4 separate regions of the Homo sapiens genome follow, and regions 2, 3 and 4 are each reported to be linked to region 1. Evidence: microRNA targets listed by miRTarBase, many of them from high-throughput screens and not tested one by one. Region 1 holds a microRNA gene; each other region holds the end of a gene's coding sequence.

Region 1 (5,212 bases):
CATGTTTTGCTACCTCTCTCAGTTGTATTTAAAGAGACATTGTTTTTGACCTGTTTGCCTATTCCTCAGTCTGTCACACCAACATGACCAGTCCTGCCGATTGAAACTTTCTGGACACAAGCTTCAGTCTCTGGAAGATTCTTGGGTGTCCTTCTCCCTCCAAGGTATGTGAAGGATGCTCCAGCCCACAGTTACATGACATTGGTCATTAGGTGCCTTGGGAGGGCTTCATGGAGGCGATGTGACTTTAGGAACCTGACAGGCTTATTTTCTTTTTGTTTTTGATATTTTTCGAATTCAAAGCATAGAATCCCTACTTTGCCTGCTTTACTTGTGGCAAATTTTTGATGTACATTCACTTTTTTTTTTTTTTTTTTTCAGAATTAAATGCTACTTTGGAAACGCTCTTGACCATGAAGCCTCCATTAGGGAAGAGACATTAGGGTTACCCCCACCCAGACGAGTGACAGCAGGGCAGACCCCAAACTTACGTTTGCCTGCATAGGAGTTCCATCTCTGGATGTGAAGAGGCCAGGGGTGGGCCCTGCGCTTCCCACGTGGGACTCGCAAAGTGCTCACCTGCTTCTGTTACCTTCTGTCTTTCATGAATCATGTTTGCGTTTGTGCTCTCCAGGGCTGTTCCCACTTTTCCCATCTAAAAGGTGGATGTTCCTTCTATGCTTACAGGATTTATGGTGAATCATAGAGGAAAATCCGCATTTTCAGTATCTAAGGCTGCTTTTAAAACATTTCTGAACATTTCTGAGAGGAAGGTTAGCTCCCTCCCCCATGCGGAGAGTGATGGAAGGTGAATCCCAGAACCTAAGCTCTTGTTAGCAAGGTCTGTCCTGGGACATGCGTCCTCCGCAGGGCCCATGTCACTGCCGCTAGCCCGGGAGGCCCCTGCCGACTGCACCTATCCTGTGCTGTCTTTAATTTTGATAGATTGTGCTTAGGTTCATGCTTTCCAGGACTCAATCCTTCTTTGGTATTTAAAAGGTGGATATTCCTTCTATGTTTATGTTATTTATGGTTAAACATAGAGGAAATTCCACGTTTTCAGTATCAAATGCTGCTTGGAAACATTCCTGGACTGAAACCACCATCAGGGAAGAGACAATAAAGTCCCCCCCCCCACTCCAGGGTAAGTGGAAAGTCGGTGGACCTCAGAACATGTGCTGAATTCGTGCCATATGTCTGCGGACCACCCACCCGCCTTGAGGAGACCCCTCTCGCAAGCTGCCCGCTCGGCCAAGCGGCTGGGCTCCGTCGTCATTTTCTCCATGAGGCCGAATGCTCTCCTCTGTGCTATGTTACTTTTGTGTTTGATGGATTGTACTTAGGTTCGTGCTTTCCGGGATGAAACCTTCTTTGGTATTTAAAAGGTAGATTTTCCTTCTATGGTTACGTGTTTGATGGTTAATCATAGAGGAAAATCCACGTTTTCAGTATCAAATGCTGCCTTGGGATCATGGCTGGACTGAAGCCACCATCAGGGACGTGAGGTGGGGCTGAGCCCTCCAGGGTAAGTGGAAAGATGGTGGGCCGCAGAACATGTGCTGAGTTCGTGCCATATGTCTGCTGACCATCACCTTTAGAAGCCCCCTTTCGCTGAGGAGCCAGCTTGGTGCACAGGCTGTGGTGTGTTGTCACAGCTATGCTACGGGACTGAAAACGGTTGCTTTACTGTCTTGCTTCCATTTTCCATGAACTGTGTTCAGATTTGTCCTTTCCAGAGCCCAGTCCTTCTTTGGTATTTAAAACGTGGATATTCCTTCTATGTTTACGTGATTCCTGGTTAATCATAGAGGAAAATCCATGTTTTCAGTATCAAATGCTGCTTTGGAAATGTTTCTGGAAGAGACCGTAGGGCCTGAGTAGGTGCAAAGATGGTAGGCCGCACGTCGTATCTGAATGAACGGGGTATGCCCGAGAACCATCTCGAGACGCCAACTTGGTGAAGATTAAATTGTGGGTCTCGTGGTGCCAGTTCTTCCCTGGAAGCTCGTCTGCCTCATGTGACTTTCTTTTCTGATGACTCAAGCACAGGTGCACGCTTTCCTGGATGGAATCCTTCTTTGGTATTTAAAAGGTAGATTCTCCTTCTATGAGTACATTATTTATGATTAATCATAGAGGAAAATCCACGTTTTCAGTATCAAATGCTGCTTTGAAAACCTCGGAGGACGTGAAGTCGCCATGGAAGAGGAGATGTTATCTGTACCCCTCCTGGGTACAGGACGGACAGACACAGAATTGTACTTTGTATGAAATACGCCGTCAGCTTCTCTGCTGTTTGCTCACTGCCCTTGGTGCACACATAATGTGTTGTTACAAGGCTGTGTTCTCAGTATTGCCTCATTGACCTTGAATGAAGTTTGTTCTCTGTATGTTTACCATGATTGCAATGCATTTTCTGGAATGAACCTCTTTTACTGTGACTAGTTGTACCTTAGAGAATACCTGAGTGGGCTGTCAATTTCAGGAAGGGGCACTGCTTCAGGGGCTATGGAAGGAATAGATGTGTGATTCACCCACGGGCCTGCACTTCACACCTCGGTGTGCTGCTCTCACCATGCAGATCCCATCTGTGTCTCTAAGGCTTGCTCCTGGAGCTGGTGGCAACTTAGTCACAGAGGAAATGGCCTTCCTGTCACTGCCATCATTTGCTACTTGAAGAGAGGTAATCCTTCACGCATTTGCTTTACTTGCAATGATTATACAAGGGCAGACTCTCTCTGGGGAGCAAATCCTGCCTGGGAAGCCTTCTTGGGAACAAGGCTGACTCCAGCAACCTGTTAGATGGCCAGGATAGCCCTGGGGTGTGGATGGTTGACCACAGGGCATGTGCCTCTGTCTTGCTGTTTGTGACCTGGTTCTCTGACCCTCCTCATCTCATGCTTCCTTCCAAGAACTTTCTGGAAGAGATGCTGGCTTTGGAGATGATATAGGGTTTTCTCTTCAGACCACCTGTTCTGCCTAGCAAAAAGGGCCTACCTTGGCCGGGCACGGTGGCTCACGCTTGTAACCCCAGCCCTTTGGGAGGCTGAGACGGTGGATGGCTTAAGCCCAGGAGTTCGAAACTAGCGTGGGCAACTTGGCGAAACCCCATCTCTGCAAAAAATACAAAAATTAGCTGGGTGTCATGGTGTGCGCCTGTGGTCCCAGTACTTAGGAGGTTGAGGCTGGAGGATCACTTGAGCCCGGGAGTTGGGAGGTTGTAGTGAGCCAAGATTGTGCCACTGCACTTCAGCCTGGCTGACAGAGACCCCTGTCTCAACACAATAGGTTAAAAAAAAAAGAAAAGAACAAAGGGCCTCCCTTGATGGGCCCTACTTATCACAAAGCATCCATGGGCTGCTACTCCGGCAGGTCTGCCCAGCATGATGCCAGCCTCTGAGAAGAGGTCTCGTGGTCAGTGCATCTCCCAGATACATGAAAGAATGACCGTCAGCAAAGTCAATGTCTAATGTAGATGTGGGTCATCTGGTCTACCCACTCTCCATACCTAGCCCATCCTTGGAGTGACTTTTGGACCTCACTGTCCACTTGAGGGAAGGCCAGTCCACAGGAAGGAGGCCCCAGAGCACCCAGTGTGGCTACAGGACTTGCTGCTGGGACCTCTAAGCCCCACTGCTCTCTTAGTCCATTGGTGTCCTTTAGGGATTCTTGCCAATGGAAAGACCCTTGGATTCCTGGTGTTAGCATGTGTTTATTCAGAGAGAGTTGGCCCATGAGAATCTCATTTTCCTTTGACGAATCTTGCCCTAGATGAATACTTCTGAGTAACAACTAACTGCTCAGATGGCTTTCTGAATACAATGCCAAATTCAGGAGAAGGGACACTTGTCATAGTGCTGCTTTGTGATTTGCAAACGGAGTGCGTTGGATTTCTGTTTCTCTTTTTTCTTTAATGATGCATGTGACTGCATCTTCTAACCTCCCTTAGCCAGTGTTCACCAGGAGGGCTTCCTGGAGGCAGTGGCTTTGGGCAGAGGCAGAGGTTCTTCTCCCAGGGTGTTTTTGCAGGCCCTAAAGGGATTTCAGCCATTTTACATTTACATTATTTCAAATGGTACAGGATTGCCTGTCTTTTGGTAACCAATCCTGTCGTGAAGAGATGCTGGGAAGTAAAGTCAACTGTATGGCAGGCCCCAGCTCCAGGGCCAGCCAGATGAGGCTTGTCACCTGGCCCCTCCCCCTTGGTCTCAGGCCTCGCAGGAGGAGATGTCCACTCCGGCGAAGACCCGGCATAGTCCTCACCTGCTCTTTGAGCCACTCTTTGGTACTTGAAGAGAGGATACCCTTTGTATGTTCACTTGATTAATGGCGAATATACAGGGGGAGACTCTTATTTGCGTATCAAACTCTGTCGAGGAAGACGCTCAGACCCTGCTGTCTCCAGGACAAAGCCTCGGATGTCAGCCCCTCTCAGGTACGGCTTGGCTTCCCTGTCTGGGAACGTGAGCTTGGCTGTGATCCTAGCCCTTGGGTTCTGCCTTCGCTCTCTGTGCTGGTTCTTCCTGTGGACTCCCTGGAGGCAGTGGGAGAGGAGGGTCCTTTTTGTGTGCACTGAGTTTAATGGTGGTTTGCTTTTTTTAAGGATAAATCACATGGATCTGCCTCTTCTCCATACCAAGTCATACCCAGAGGGCTTCCTGCGTCCAGCACTAACCTCGCACCTCTCCGGACACACGAATGGGTGGTGGATGGTGGAGCGCAGAGCTGATGCTGCTTCTCACCTGCTACTCCCCTGACCTGCCACTCCCTGGTGGTCTCCATCCTTGAGAGAGTGTCAGCCTTGAGGGAAGCACATGGATGTCAGGTTGTTCTAAGGCAAGTTACTGGTGGAGCTCCCTGAGCCTGCCTGTGCCCTCTGGGACTGTCGCTGGACTCCAATGGCCAGTCCTCGGAGCACATTGTCCAGTGATTGCACCTGAGTGTGCCTTGGGCAGGTGTGTCTGGTCTTCAGGACTCCTTTGTCGCTAGAGTCTGACGCTGGGGCCCTCTTTTTGTTTGTTTCGAGGTAGGTACAGGTGACACATTCTTGGATCTGGTCATCTCTAGGACAACCAGCCTCAGAGGAGAGACATTGTCTCAGCGCTCTCCAGCTCTGAGAATGCCTGCAGATGCCTTCTTCTCTGATAACTCCATGTCTTGCCGGGCTGAGCCCTCACACCCTGTGCCCCTTTGGAGAAAGGTGATGGTTCCA
Region 2 (5,212 bases), not on the chromosome of region 1:
TTAGATGTTCTTCTGCCACTTCTTTACCTCATTCTTCAGATCTTGCCTCAAGCAGCACTTTCTTAAAAACCCTTTCCCAAACTAGAAAATGTCAACTTGTTACAGTGTCATGTGGATCCCTTGGCTTTTTCTTAATAACACCAGATTATGCTTACATATTTGTGTAATTATCTTATTAAACTCTATAAACTAGACTTAACTAAATCCTATGAAGAGCAGAGACCATACCAGTTAAGCTCATCATTGTGCTGCTAGCACTTAGCATGGTGCCTGGCATATAGCAGGTTCTCAATAAATGTTGAAAGAATGATTGATGCATGATGAATACATAAAAGTTCGTGGTGATCAGTCCTTTCACAACGTGAAGCTATCAGATAGTCTGTACCTCTATCCCTCCTGAGAAATTAAGCTCTCAGGAATATCAAGGCTCTGACTGCATACCCATAGGATCAAAGCAACCCTCAGTCACAAGCCTGGTTTCAGAGATAGGGTCATAACCCCCAGGGTGCAGAGACAACCGAGAGTACCCAGCACTAATCCAGATATACCAGCCACTGTGATTCTAGCAACAAAACTAATAATTCCGGGCACCCTTGGACAATGAGAAAGGGTGCTGAAATCCTGCCTACCCTGTCACACTCAGTTTCAGAAATGGTCTGGAAGAGCCTGCAGAGGGCAGGCAGCAGAGAACCGGCAGAGGGCATGGGAAGGGCCAGGCAGAAATAAAGGGTAGCTCTTGAAGCATAGATGACAGTGTAGACCGTGGTTCTTTTCTCTTGCTTTCTCCACCTTTCTCTTCAATAGTTTGTTTCTCCTCATTGCTGTTCCAATGGCAACCTCTATTCTGCCCTATCATTGAAATCTAGAAAAAGAAAGTAGCTCAAATGTGAAATATCACCTAATCTTTTCTTCTATTTCTCCAGAGAAAAAATCCATATACCTGAAAGATCTGATGAAGCCCAGCGTGTTTTTAAAAGTTCGAAGACATCTTCATGCGACAAAAGTGATACATGTTTTTAATTAAAGAGTAAAGCCCATACAAGTATTCATTTTTTCTACCCTTTCCTTTGTAAGTTCCTGGGCAACCTTTTTGATTTCTTCCAGAAGGCAAAAAGACATTACCATGAGTAATAAGGGGGCTCCAGGACTCCCTCTAAGTGGAATAGCCTCCCTGTAACTCCAGCTCTGCTCCGTATGCCAAGAGGAGACTTTAATTCTCTTACTGCTTCTTTTCACTTCAGAGCACACTTATGGGCCAAGCCCAGCTTAATGGCTCATGACCTGGAAATAAAATTTAGGACCAATACCTCCTCCAGATCAGATTCTTCTCTTAATTTCATAGATTGTGTTTTTTTTTTAAATAGACCTCTCAATTTCTGGAAAACTGCCTTTTATCTGCCCAGAATTCTAAGCTGGTGCCCCACTGAATTTTGTGTGTACCTGTGACTAAACAACTACCTCCTCAGTCTGGGTGGGACTTATGTATTTATGACCTTATAGTGTTAATATCTTGAAACATAGAGATCTATGTACTGTAATAGTGTGATTACTATGCTCTAGAGAAAAGTCTACCCCTGCTAAGGAGTTCTCATCCCTCTGTCAGGGTCAGTAAGGAAAACGGTGGCCTAGGGTACAGGCAACAATGAGCAGACCAACCTAAATTTGGGGAAATTAGGAGAGGCAGAGATAGAACCTGGAGCCACTTCTATCTGGGCTGTTGCTAATATTGAGGAGGCTTGCCCCACCCAACAAGCCATAGTGGAGAGAACTGAATAAACAGGAAAATGCCAGAGCTTGTGAACCCTGTTTCTCTTGAAGAACTGACTAGTGAGATGGCCTGGGGAAGCTGTGAAAGAACCAAAAGAGATCACAATACTCAAAAGAGAGAGAGAGAGAAAAAAGAGAGATCTTGATCCACAGAAATACATGAAATGTCTGGTCTGTCCACCCCATCAACAAGTCTTGAAACAAGCAACAGATGGATAGTCTGTCCAAATGGACATAAGACAGACAGCAGTTTCCCTGGTGGTCAGGGAGGGGTTTTGGTGATACCCAAGTTATTGGGATGTCATCTTCCTGGAAGCAGAGCTGGGGAGGGAGAGCCATCACCTTGATAATGGGATGAATGGAAGGAGGCTTAGGACTTTCCACTCCTGGCTGAGAGAGGAAGAGCTGCAACGGAATTAGGAAGACCAAGACACAGATCACCCGGGGCTTACTTAGCCTACAGATGTCCTACGGGAACGTGGGCTGGCCCAGCATAGGGCTAGCAAATTTGAGTTGGATGATTGTTTTTGCTCAAGGCAACCAGAGGAAACTTGCATACAGAGACAGATATACTGGGAGAAATGACTTTGAAAACCTGGCTCTAAGGTGGGATCACTAAGGGATGGGGCAGTCTCTGCCCAAACATAAAGAGAACTCTGGGGAGCCTGAGCCACAAAAATGTTCCTTTATTTTATGTAAACCCTCAAGGGTTATAGACTGCCATGCTAGACAAGCTTGTCCATGTAATATTCCCATGTTTTTACCCTGCCCCTGCCTTGATTAGACTCCTAGCACCTGGCTAGTTTCTAACATGTTTTGTGCAGCACAGTTTTTAATAAATGCTTGTTACATTCATTTAAAAGTCTACATTTTCTGCTTTGGCTTCAAGAGTACTACTCAACCCTTGTGGTCTGATGTTCCCTGCTCTGTCCTCTGAATGTACTTCCTTTCTCTTTACATCTCTATGGCTAGAAGCCTCTCACGCATCCTGTATCTTCTCCTCCTCCCTTTTCCCTACCATTATTTGAGAAAGGAGGCTTGTATACTTCTATATGTTTATCTCAGTAATAAGTCATAAAAAATCAAGTAAGAATGGTTGTTTTTGAGGACAACTAAGAAATCTGGAATAAGGAAGGGAAGCTTACTTTTGAGTTTGTAACCTGTAGTGTGTAATTTTTTAATTATGTACTTACATGTACATTAAACAAAAGCTTAATGTAAAAATATTCCTTGAAAACACCATGATTATAAAATAAATGCATATATACACATACAGCATGTGAGAGGAGCCAGGAAAACTCTGGAAAAAAGAAAATTACCTAGACTCTGTGAGGGCAGGAATGTGTTTAATTTCTCTCCAATGGATCCTCAGACAACTAAGATAGTTGTCTATTCTATTGTCCATCTTTTTGTCTTTTGTTGTATTTCTTAAAGATTCCCTCAACTTTATCTTCTAACTTCTGTTGTATTTTTATTTCTGCTATCATGTATTCTTTTCAGAATTCTTTTTTGTTCTCTCAAAACATATCTGTTTAAAGATTGAATGAAATATTAACATGCCCTTTGGTGAGAACATCCCTCCTTTGTATATTAAATTCTCTGAACTGCTGTATTCTAAGACTAGGGGAAAGAAAAAGAAGGTTGAAAGAGGTCATTAGGCAGAATAGTACTAGCTAACATTATTTCACATTTACCATATACCCGTCACTCATCTAAACCTTTAAACTCATTATCCTATTTAATCCTCACAATGACCCTGTGACGTAGGTAATGGAATATTATGCCCATTATGCTGATGAGAAAATATAAACACAGAGATAAGTCAGAGTAATTTACCCAACATTGTTAACTTTGTAAGTGGCAGAGCTTTGTAACAGGCAGAGGTTGGAACAGTTTGGAGGGCTCAGAAGAAGACAGGAAGATGTAGGAAAGTTTGGAACTTCCCAGAGCCTTGTTGAATGGCTTTGACCAAAATGCTGATAGTAATATGGACAATGAAATACAGGCTGAGGTGGTCTCAGATAGAGAAGAGGAACTTGTTGGGAACTGGAATAAAGGTGACTCTTGCTATGTTTTAGCAAAGACACTGGTGGCATTTTGCCCCTGCCCTAGAGATTTGTGGGACTTTGAACTTGAGAGAGATGATTTAGGGTATCTGGTGGAAGAAATTTCTAAGCAGCAAAGCATTCAAGATGTAACTTTCGTGCTGTTAAAAGCATTCAGTTTTATGTATTCCCAAAAATATGGTTTGGAATTGGAACTTATGTTTAAAAGTTTGGAAAATTTGCAGCCTGACAATGTGATAGAAAAGAAAACCCATTTTCTGAGGAGAAATTCAAGCCAGCTGCAGAAATTTGCATAAGTAACAAGGAGCCAAATGTTAATTGCCAAGATAATGGGAAAATGTCTCCAGGCCATGTCAGAACTCTTTACAGCAGCCCTTCTCATCACAGGCCAAGAGGCCTAGGAGGGAAAAACGGTTTCCTGGCCAGGCCCGAGGCCTTGCTGCTTTGTGCAGTTTTGGGACTTGGTGCCCTGCATCCCAGCCATGGCTAAAAGAGGCCAAGATACAGTTCAGGTCATGGCTTCAGAGGGTGCAAGCCCCAAGGCTTGGCAGCTTCAGCACAGTGAACCTGCAGGTGCACACAAGTCAAGAATTGAGGTTTGGGAACATCCCCGTAGATTTCAGAGGATGTATGGGAACACCTGGATGTCCAGGCAGAAGTTTGCTGCAGGGGTAGAGCTCTCATGGAGAACCTCTGCAAGGGCAGTGCAGCAGGGAAATGTGGGGTTGGAGCCCCCACACAGAGTCCCCACTGGGGCACTGCCTAGTGGAGCTATGAGAAGAGGGCCACCATCATCCAGACCCCAGAATTGTAGGTCCACCAACCATGCGCCTGGAAAAGTCACCGACACTCAATGCCAACCCATGAAGGAAGTCAGGAGGGGGCTGTACCCTGCAAAGCCAAAGAGGCCAAGCTGCCCAAGGCCATGGGAGCCCACCTCTTGCATCAGCATGACCTGGATGTGAGAGATGGAGACAAAAGAGAGATCATTTTGGAGCTTTAAGATTTCACTGCCCCACTGGATTTTGGACTTGCATGGGGCCTGTAGCCCCTTTGTTTTGGCAAATTTCTCCCATTTGGAATGGGTATATTTACCCAATGCCTGTACCCCCATTGTATCTAGGAAGTTACTAACTTTCTTTTGATTTTACAGGCTCATAGGCGGAAGGTGCTTGCCTTGTCTCAGATGAGACTTTGGACTTGGGACTTTTGGGTTAATGCTGGAATGAGTTAAGACTTTGGGGGACTGTTGGAAAGGCATGATTGTATTTTGAAATGTAAGGACATGAGATTTGGGAGGAGCCAGGGGTGAAATTATATGGTTTGGCTGTGTCCCCATCCAAATCTCATCTTGAATTGTAGTTCCCATAATCTCCACG
Region 3 (4,000 bases), not on the chromosome of region 1:
CCTGGTTCATCTTGTATTTTTAGTAGAGATGGGGGTTTCACCATGTTGGCCCAGGCTGGTCTCGAACTCCTGAACTGGTGATCTGTCCACCTTGGCCTCCCAAAGTGTTGGGATTACAGGCGTGAGCCACCGTGTCCAGCCAGGTAGCCTTTTTAAACTGGTAAGACTACAAGAGCCTTCTGATTTTGTACATATCCAAAAGATGTCTAGCTTTTAAATGTATTGCTAATGTATTCAGTTTAGTTTTTCTTTCAATCTCAAATGATAGGTGTGGTGTAATTAAAAAAAAAAAAAAAATAGGCCAAGCACGGTGGCTCATACCTGTAATCCCAGCACTTTGGGAGGCTGAGGTGGGTGGATCACCTGAAGTCGAGAGATCGAGACCAGCCTGACCAACATGGTGAAAACCCGTCTCTACTGAAAAAAAAAAAATTAGCCGGGCATGGTGGCGCATGCCTGTAATCCCAGCTACTCGAGAGGCTGAGGTATGAGAATCGCCTTAACCTGGGAGGTGGAGGTTGCAGTGAGCAGAGATCGTGCCATTGCACTCCAGCCTGGGCAACAAGAGTGAAACTGTCTAAAAACAAAACAAATAAAATGGATTTGGGTTTTTCTCCCTGGTTCCTTGCACACAGCTCCAAAAATCCTTGTAATTTCCAGAATGTCTTTTGTTATTCATTACAAGCCCCTTTTGATCTTACCAGTTTATGCTAATGAGATGACTACTGGCAGAGGGCCCCTAGATAGCTTCAAGATGGGCACGGGTCACTAGAGGAACCAGTTGTATTAAAGGGCTACAACTATTACCCCCACCCGAGACCTCCAGGGAGAAGAGGGGCTGGAGATTGAGCCCGGAGGCCAATAATTTAATGAGTCTAGGTTATAAAATGTCAGTAAGGGAGCTTCTGAGTTGAACACATCAACATGCTGGGAAAGTGGCATGCCAAGTGAGGGCAGAGAAACCTCTACTATTCTCCTCCACAACCCCCTCCATCCACCTTACTCTATGCATCTCTTCCATTTGGCTGTTCCTGAATTGTATACTTACTGTAGTCGTTAAGTATAGTGCTTTCCTGAGTTGTTTCAATGCATTATTGAACTTGGGGGGATGGGAAGGCCATAAGAACCCTAAATTTACGGTTGGCTGGGCAGAAGCGCGGGTAGCCTGTTGATCGCATTTGTGGCTGGTGTCTGAAGTGGGGGCAATTTTGTGGTACTGAGCACTTAACTTGCTCTAAATCTGGGTGGTGTCAGATTCAATTGTTGGACACCCAATTGATGTCTGAGAATTGCTGTTGAAACGGAGTAGAGATAGAAAAGCCTCTCATCGTTCTCAGTGCACTTGGGACTTATTTCTATGTGATCATCATTGCACACTCTACTGTCCAACTTGGTACCTCATACTGTAGACTTATCTTAAAACTCCAGTACAAATACAGTAGAACACTGGAGGACTAAATATCCAGTTTGCTTCAGTACTTGAAGCAAATATACATCAGTTGTTAACAGCTGTTTTATGTTCTACATAAAGTGCTTTCCAACTACAAAATGTTATTCAACATACAGTTTATCACCAGTAGATAGTTTTCCTCTACTTTTGCAATCAAATTTACTGGCATTCTGGGTACACTGATAGCTTCTATACCTTTTGGGAAAAGAAAAATGAACTATATCTGCATCTCAAATCTACCTCGAAAGGTCTTGACAAATGTGAAAACTCAAATAATTTTAACACTTTGATGTACCTTTGCCCTTGATCTTTACCTTGTGGTCAGAACTCTTGTTTTAAAATCCTTGTTTCATACCTTAGCTTAAGGGCATAGTATGCGCTATTTTCAGCATTCAAAATTCACCAGATACTAACTAGTAATTTACATATTTGAGACCACTATCTGTTAGGGTTTTTTTTCTTAAACAACTCAGGAACATTGGCATCCTAAGGCAAACTGAAAATTCACTGGGATATAATTTAATTATATTATTGGTATTTTCCAATTTCAAATAAAAACTATACTGTTAAATAAGCTTTGCAGTAGATACCCAACTACCAAACAGTACACACTTGGAAGTGTTCATACCCTTATTTTGATCTTAAAAACGTGGCCCCCTTAATACAATGGTTGGCTCTATCTCCAGATTTATATCTAAATCTGACTTCTCCAATGCTGGGAAGCCACTCTCTTCAGCGTATTTTTGTAAATGTGATACCATTTAACGTCACGATTACCAAAGGGGGCTAATCGCATTGGTCTTTTACATTTGACACAGTTAAGTGGAGAATTCCTGCTATTGTGCCTACCATGTAAGAACTATTAGCATAAAGAATATGAACTACTTCCATGCTTTTGAGCTGATTTTGGGGGGTTGGAGGTGTGATGGAAAATTTATCACAATTCATGCATCAGTCATGTTAACACGGGTAAAGACACATGAGGAACTATCTCTGCCCAGATATAAACTTTCACGCTGGTAATTTTTTAAAAAAGAGTCATGAACACATAATTTTAAAGTTTACTTAAAAAATGTAAAGAACTCCCAATATTTAACAGGTAAAAAAAATAGCATATTGGTCTATGGGTTTGTTATATTTTATTTTCCAAGTAATACTGATTAAAAATATTTACACACCTACTTTTAAGTCCACAGTTTAGCACTCTTATTTGTATGGCTTTAAAAGTTATAGCACAAGATCTTTACATTAAGAATTGGGGGAAAAGATTCCATTCAAAACAAAGCCTGATAATTATATACATGTCTTTCTCTGTACTTTATTTTAAATACATTAATTTTTAAATGCTGCTCATCTTTTTCTCATCTGGTGGTAAAATACTAGTGCAACTTTTCATCAAAATAAAGTTTACCACAGATGTAAATAAATTTTCCCAATTGAAAATGGCCCTTCAGTGGCCATTAAATAAAATTTCTCAACCTAACTTAAGTGAAAAAGAACTGGTGGTTGTCATTATAACCAAAAATATAAAGTATTATAGCATCATCTACATTGCTCCTTACAACACAAACTTTGAAAGAACCAGAGATGCTTTATAGAAGTTCAGTTGGTTTTGAGAAGGCACATGGGTGTGGATTTTTTTTTTTTTTTAACATTCTAGAAATTTTGCCACCACCACTCTTTCTGTTGCAAAGATGGCATCTGTGACTACTGGGGTAGACAAGAACGTTTGTTCAAACTAAAGAAAGCCAGAAGCCAAAATTTAACTGCACAGTAACAATGCACTTTTCATCATGCAGCCTTGTGTTTCCTATATTATTCAATTTTCTAACATGCATTAGAATACATAAACTTGTATTCTAATGATTTAAGTTTGATTTTACAATATGGAAAAAATTTGAGGAAGAACATGACCTGGGAAAGAGAAAAGGAAGAACTTTTACCACAATGAAAATAGATACATTCGTACCCAACTATATAATAAGAATATAATCCATTTAAGTTTCCAGAAATATACTTCTCAAAACTCCCCTTCAGTTATGGAAAAGATCCCTCCTCTGTGGCAATAAGTAGGGGGAGGGGAATCAATGTGTTTCAACGGACAACAGTTCAGCACAACAGGAAACAGCTTAACTTTGGTCCACTTGTCTGTTAGGCTTAATTAAGGACAGTCAAACTGCCCATAATCAGTTCAAAAACCCAACAAGTAAATTTAAAAATATATTCATGTGTAATTTCATTCTAAAACTGGCAGAGCTGTTCTGTCCTCATTCTCTGCCTTTTCTGCTTCAGAATCCACTGTTGGCTTGGTCTCTAAATCCTCAGCATCTTCGTGATCTTCCCTGGCAGCCTCAGCAGCATCTGCTTGGCTAGACTCTCTCTCCTCTTGGTTCATGATTTCTGGGGTCACGTGGTCCAAATCTGCTTCTAGAAGTTCAGTTTGTACTTCCACTGGCATTTGATTGACCCGTTCAACATGCAGCTCCTCTACATGTACTTCAGTACCTTCTTCAGTCTGAATTCGGCCCACTTCTAGATAACTCACTTGGA
Region 4 (4,000 bases), not on the chromosome of region 1:
CCAAATTGCTGGGATTATAGGCGTGAGCCACTCTGCCCAAACTGCCTTGGTTTTTAATCAATAAAATTAGAAATTATCTCTGTACTTACGTGTCAATGGCATCCCAGAGCACAAGGAGAAGCTCCTGGAAGATTACAAAGGCTGTGATGCCTATGTTAACCATAAGCCTCATAAGCAACCCTCACAGCAGAGAGCAGGAGTGCAGGGCCCAGACCTGGGATCAAACCTCGCATTTTCCCCCTTTGGCAAAGCCCAGCTAAAATTCTCTGAGAGCAACATGCCCAGGTTTAAGTACTCTTAAAGTGAGGGCTCTGTGATATGTACACCTAGTGAAGAAAGGGTGAGATTTTCTGGCAGCAAGTGGAGGAGGCTAAGGTTCTCAGACCCAGGCCCCGAAGTCCAAGCCCTATCATGGGCTAGGCTGGCTTAGCCTAGCCAACTAGGGCTCCATTGCTTCTGTGTCAGAAAGTTCTTGAAAACTTGCAGTGGTTGGGAGTGGTTCTTAGGAAATCAAAGTCAGTGCTGTCCTTACCCAGAACCCTCACAGTCTGCTCTGTGTCTCTGCAGCTCAGGAGGCAGAAAGGGTCACCTTAATTCAGATGACACATTTTCTGGAAGTGAACCCCCAAGCAGACCAGCTGCCCCATGTGGAAAGAAAGATGCTCCAGGATGACTCTCTTCCTGCTGGGGCCAGCCTGACTGCCCCAGAGAGAAATCCAGGACCCTGAGGGACAGAGAGATGAACTGCTCAGTTACCATGGGAGAAGGACCAAGATCAAAGGCCTTCAGGACCCCAGCCTCTTTCCATCATCCTTCCTCCACCTGTGGGAAGAGAAGCTGATGCAGCCGGTGCTCCACCCATGGAAGAAAGGCTGGCTGTCCTTGGGCCCAAGAAAGTCAAGCATTATCCACGTCCAAAGGTGACAAGATGACTCAAAGGAGACTTCAAGAACAGTGTATGAAACACTGGAAGAGGTCACCTAGGAAAAGCATGAAATTTCCATTCCTGAATGTTTGAAAATAGAAGAGGCTTCCAATCAGTGTGGAAAGTGACAAATCCCCTATCAACACTCCCAGCCCTTGCTGGGGGCTCCTTTTCTGACTACTGTTAGCACTCAGCCTCCCATTCACATGTATTATATTTAAGTGTACCAGCCTTGCCTTCTCAAGTAGATTCTAAGCTCCTTTAAGGCAGTAATTGCATTTTATCTGTCTCATGATGCCCCCAGAGAACTTCCAACTCAGTAGGACCCCAATAAATACCTGTGTCTGATTGACTTGGGGGCTCAGTGGCCTCTAGGCACCCTTCCTCTGCAAGAACTCTGGGTCCCCCTGGGCTTCTGCCCCTCCTTTTGGGAGTCCCCTAGATGACCCCACAGGCAGCTGGTTTCTCCGCTGAGATCAAAAGGGCAAACACCCATTCCTCACATCATCCCGCCCCATTTGGACCCAGGCTTATTGTGCCGTAGACCTTTTGACCCGGCCAAGATTTTCTGGGATTTTCCTACATTCATGGAGGAGCAGGGTATTTTCAGTAGATTCTTGCTTTCTTCATAAAGGCCCTCTTGTTCAGCTGCTTATAAATCCTCGATATGGAGGACTGTTGGTGAAGCTGGAAAATGGTTTTTGGGGGTGAGGTGGGAGACAAAAGAGAGGAATTTTATGTGGATTCTGCCCTGTAACTACATCACCTCATGCTTGTCAGGGAACTTTCGCTCCACCCTAGGCCCCACTGCCTTTCCAGGAATCACATCCACTATTTTCTTTTGCCAGATCCGCTGGCAAACTGTCTGGGCTCCATTGTTGGATGGAACAGCCTGAGCGGTGGAGGCAGAAAGGAAAAATAGGCACCAATATCGAGTTGAGAATTGCCAGGTAGACATTTCCAGAAGGCTTAGTCCTGCCTTCTAAGCTGTCAGCAGCACAGAAATCCTTCAGTAATACCCCCTTATATCTGGTTCTGAACACAGACACTGTACAAAGAAAATCAAGGAGATGCCGGTTTTATGGCTTATAAGAGAAACCTGTTGTTTTGGATAAGTAGGAAAATTGCACACATCTAACCACATGGAATCGCAGAATTTCAGAGCTAACAGATCTTTAGAGATTAGTCTAATATCCTCATTCTAGAAGAGAGGGACTTGAGGCCCAACAGGGTTAAGGGTACAGGTGGGGGGCGCTTGTTTAAAGTCACCCAGTTAACCCAGTTAGTTATAGCACTGTGAGGACTAGCAAAGAGAACTCGTGACCTTGGTTCAGGGCCTTTTTCACTTCACCATTGCTGAGCATTGTACCAAAGCAAAACTCACTGTCAAAAATCAAGGATACCACAGTCGTCCCTCGAGACTATTTTCCTGTTCGCTTTCTCAATGACCTGCCCCAAATAATCCTGTAACGGAGATAGGACAGACATCATGGATCCTATTCAACCAATGAGGGAGCAGGCTCTGCAAGGTGTGTACTTCAGCAAAGGCCACTCGGAGCAGCCCACCTCCACAGCTATGTTCTGGATCGCCGTGCCCCTTGCTTGGATTTATGATCTAGGTATCTGGTCAGGTCCTTTCCTGTGTAAAGCTCTAAAGGCTCACTTCTTTCTCTCTCTCTCTCTTAGGCTTGTGCATGGAAGGTTTCATGATCATTCCCAGGAATTGGTTCTCATTTGTGGCAGGGATGGGCCCAGCACCCAGACTGTTTCTAATGCTAGATTCTCAGGATGTGAAAAGGTGTTCTGAGGAAAAGGAGGTTTGGTAGATTAATGAAGTTTTGGAAATGCTGGGAAACCACAAACATTCTTCTATGCAGGATCTTTTGGAGCCTTTGCTATATGGAGGTGTATTGTGAAACACCCTGGGTTTTCACACCTCGGGATGGGGACATAATGTGTGTTTCCCAGATGTGTTGGATTATTGTGTTTGATTGAAGCAGTCCCAAGGGGCTGGAGTTCCTCACATCACTGTTTGGGGAAGCCTGATGCACTAAACCCGGGGTTGGCCAACTCTTCAGTAAAGGGCCACATGGTAAACATTTTAGGCTTTGCAGGCCATACAGTCTCTATGGCAACTACTCAGTTCTGCCGTTGCAGCACAAAAGCAGCCAGGCAATCGAGAAACAAATGACCGCAGCTGTGTTCCAACAAAACTTTATTTCCCAAAACAGGAGGGAGGCTGGATTTGGCCCTTGAGCCAGAATCTGCCAGTCCCTGGACTAAGCCATGAAATTGTACAGGACTCTTTTGTTCCCACTCGGATCTGGAGATCAGATCCTATTCTTCCTCAAGGGCTTCCCTGACCACCTTTCTCCAGGACCTCTCCTTCCTCCAAACGGCTCTAATACTTTCATTGTGGAATTCAGCAGCTAGAATGTTCTGTCTGACTACCCCATCTTGGGGGAAGAAGGGGAGGGAGGAGACAACCAGCCCAGCAAGAGTGTTGGCCACGTGGCTAGAGCCAGGAGCGTTTCTAGCAGGGAGGCCGTTATAGGGAAAGTTAAGCTCCACCAGAGGTGGAGCTGGTAAGAGTTCAAAAGGCCAGGGCAGGGCCAGATTAGAGTCCCAGGGCCAAGAGTTTGGAGGGGGCAGAGATAAGATCTGAGTAAGAACTTTCAGGGAGAGAAGCGGGGAAGCCCCAAGTGTTCACAGCTCTCCTTTATGGGCTAACTGATCCATGGAGTAGTCAGGAGGGTTGATTTAAAGGGCCAGAGGCCAAACTGGCAGAGGAGGCCACCTCCACCACTTGGTATTGTCAGTGCTGTTGTTTTTCATCTTATACCTCCGGCTAGCATGATGCCTATACCACTGAGATGAGGGGCAGGCAAACATCTATCCCTAGGCCAGAATCAGGGAAGCCTCCCTGGGGATTTCTAACTTAGGATTAGAATCTAATCGAGGATGCAGGGAGACCATTGATTTTCACAAGATCAAGCAGATTCTCAGGTTCGGGTGCATTTCTGCAGTTCACTTTACACTGTTACTTACTAACGCTGCTACTGCTTGTTAACGTGT

Evidence for each region. Region 1 holds the annotated microRNA hsa-miR-376b-5p (CGUGGAUAUUCCUUCUAUGUUU, at 1,764-1,785, shown strand). A microRNA usually pairs through its seed, bases 2 to 8, with sites in the 3' UTR of a target mRNA and lowers its output. Matches are read on the target gene's strand: a 7mer-m8 pairs with bases 2 to 8, a 7mer-A1 pairs with bases 2 to 7 and ends in A, and an 8mer does both.
Region 2: the mRNA of CD86 is a reported target of hsa-miR-376b-5p. Seed matches in the 3' UTR shown: 7mer-A1 at 1,913-1,919.
Region 3: the mRNA of ZNF131 is a reported target of hsa-miR-376b-5p. Seed matches in the 3' UTR shown: 7mer-A1 at 3,080-3,086.
Region 4: miRTarBase lists FCAMR as a target of hsa-miR-376b-5p. Seed matches in the 3' UTR shown: 7mer-m8 at 906-912.

What each region holds. Positions count from the first base shown.
Region 1 is chr14:101,038,696-101,043,907 of GRCh38, forward strand. MIR376B (microRNA 376b) reads left to right here and starts at 1,741; the gene lies at 1,741-1,840. MIR376C (microRNA 376c) reads left to right here and starts at 995; the gene lies at 995-1,060. MIR376A2 (microRNA 376a-2) reads left to right here and starts at 1,374; the gene lies at 1,374-1,453. MIR654 (microRNA 654) reads left to right here and starts at 1,524; the gene lies at 1,524-1,604. It also overlaps MIR376A1, MIR300 and MIR1185-1.
Region 2 is chr3:122,118,515-122,123,726 of GRCh38, forward strand. It overlaps CD86 (CD86 molecule), which reads left to right. Exons shown (of 7, transcript NM_175862.5): 7 at 924-2,622. The coding sequence ends at 1,020. Among named protein-coding and RNA genes, the nearest start is that of CASR, 63 kb to the right of the region's middle.
Region 3 is chr5:43,174,820-43,178,819 of GRCh38, reverse strand. ZNF131 (zinc finger protein 131) reads right to left here. Exons shown (of 7, transcript NM_001330707.2): 7 at 2,498-4,000. The coding sequence ends at 3,687. Among named protein-coding and RNA genes, the nearest start is that of NIM1K, 15 kb to the left of the region's middle.
Region 4 is chr1:206,955,244-206,959,243 of GRCh38, reverse strand. It overlaps FCAMR (Fc alpha and mu receptor), which reads left to right. Exons shown (of 8, transcript NM_001170631.2): 8 at 568-1,277. The coding sequence ends at 728. Among named protein-coding and RNA genes, the nearest start is that of PIGR, 11 kb to the right of the region's middle.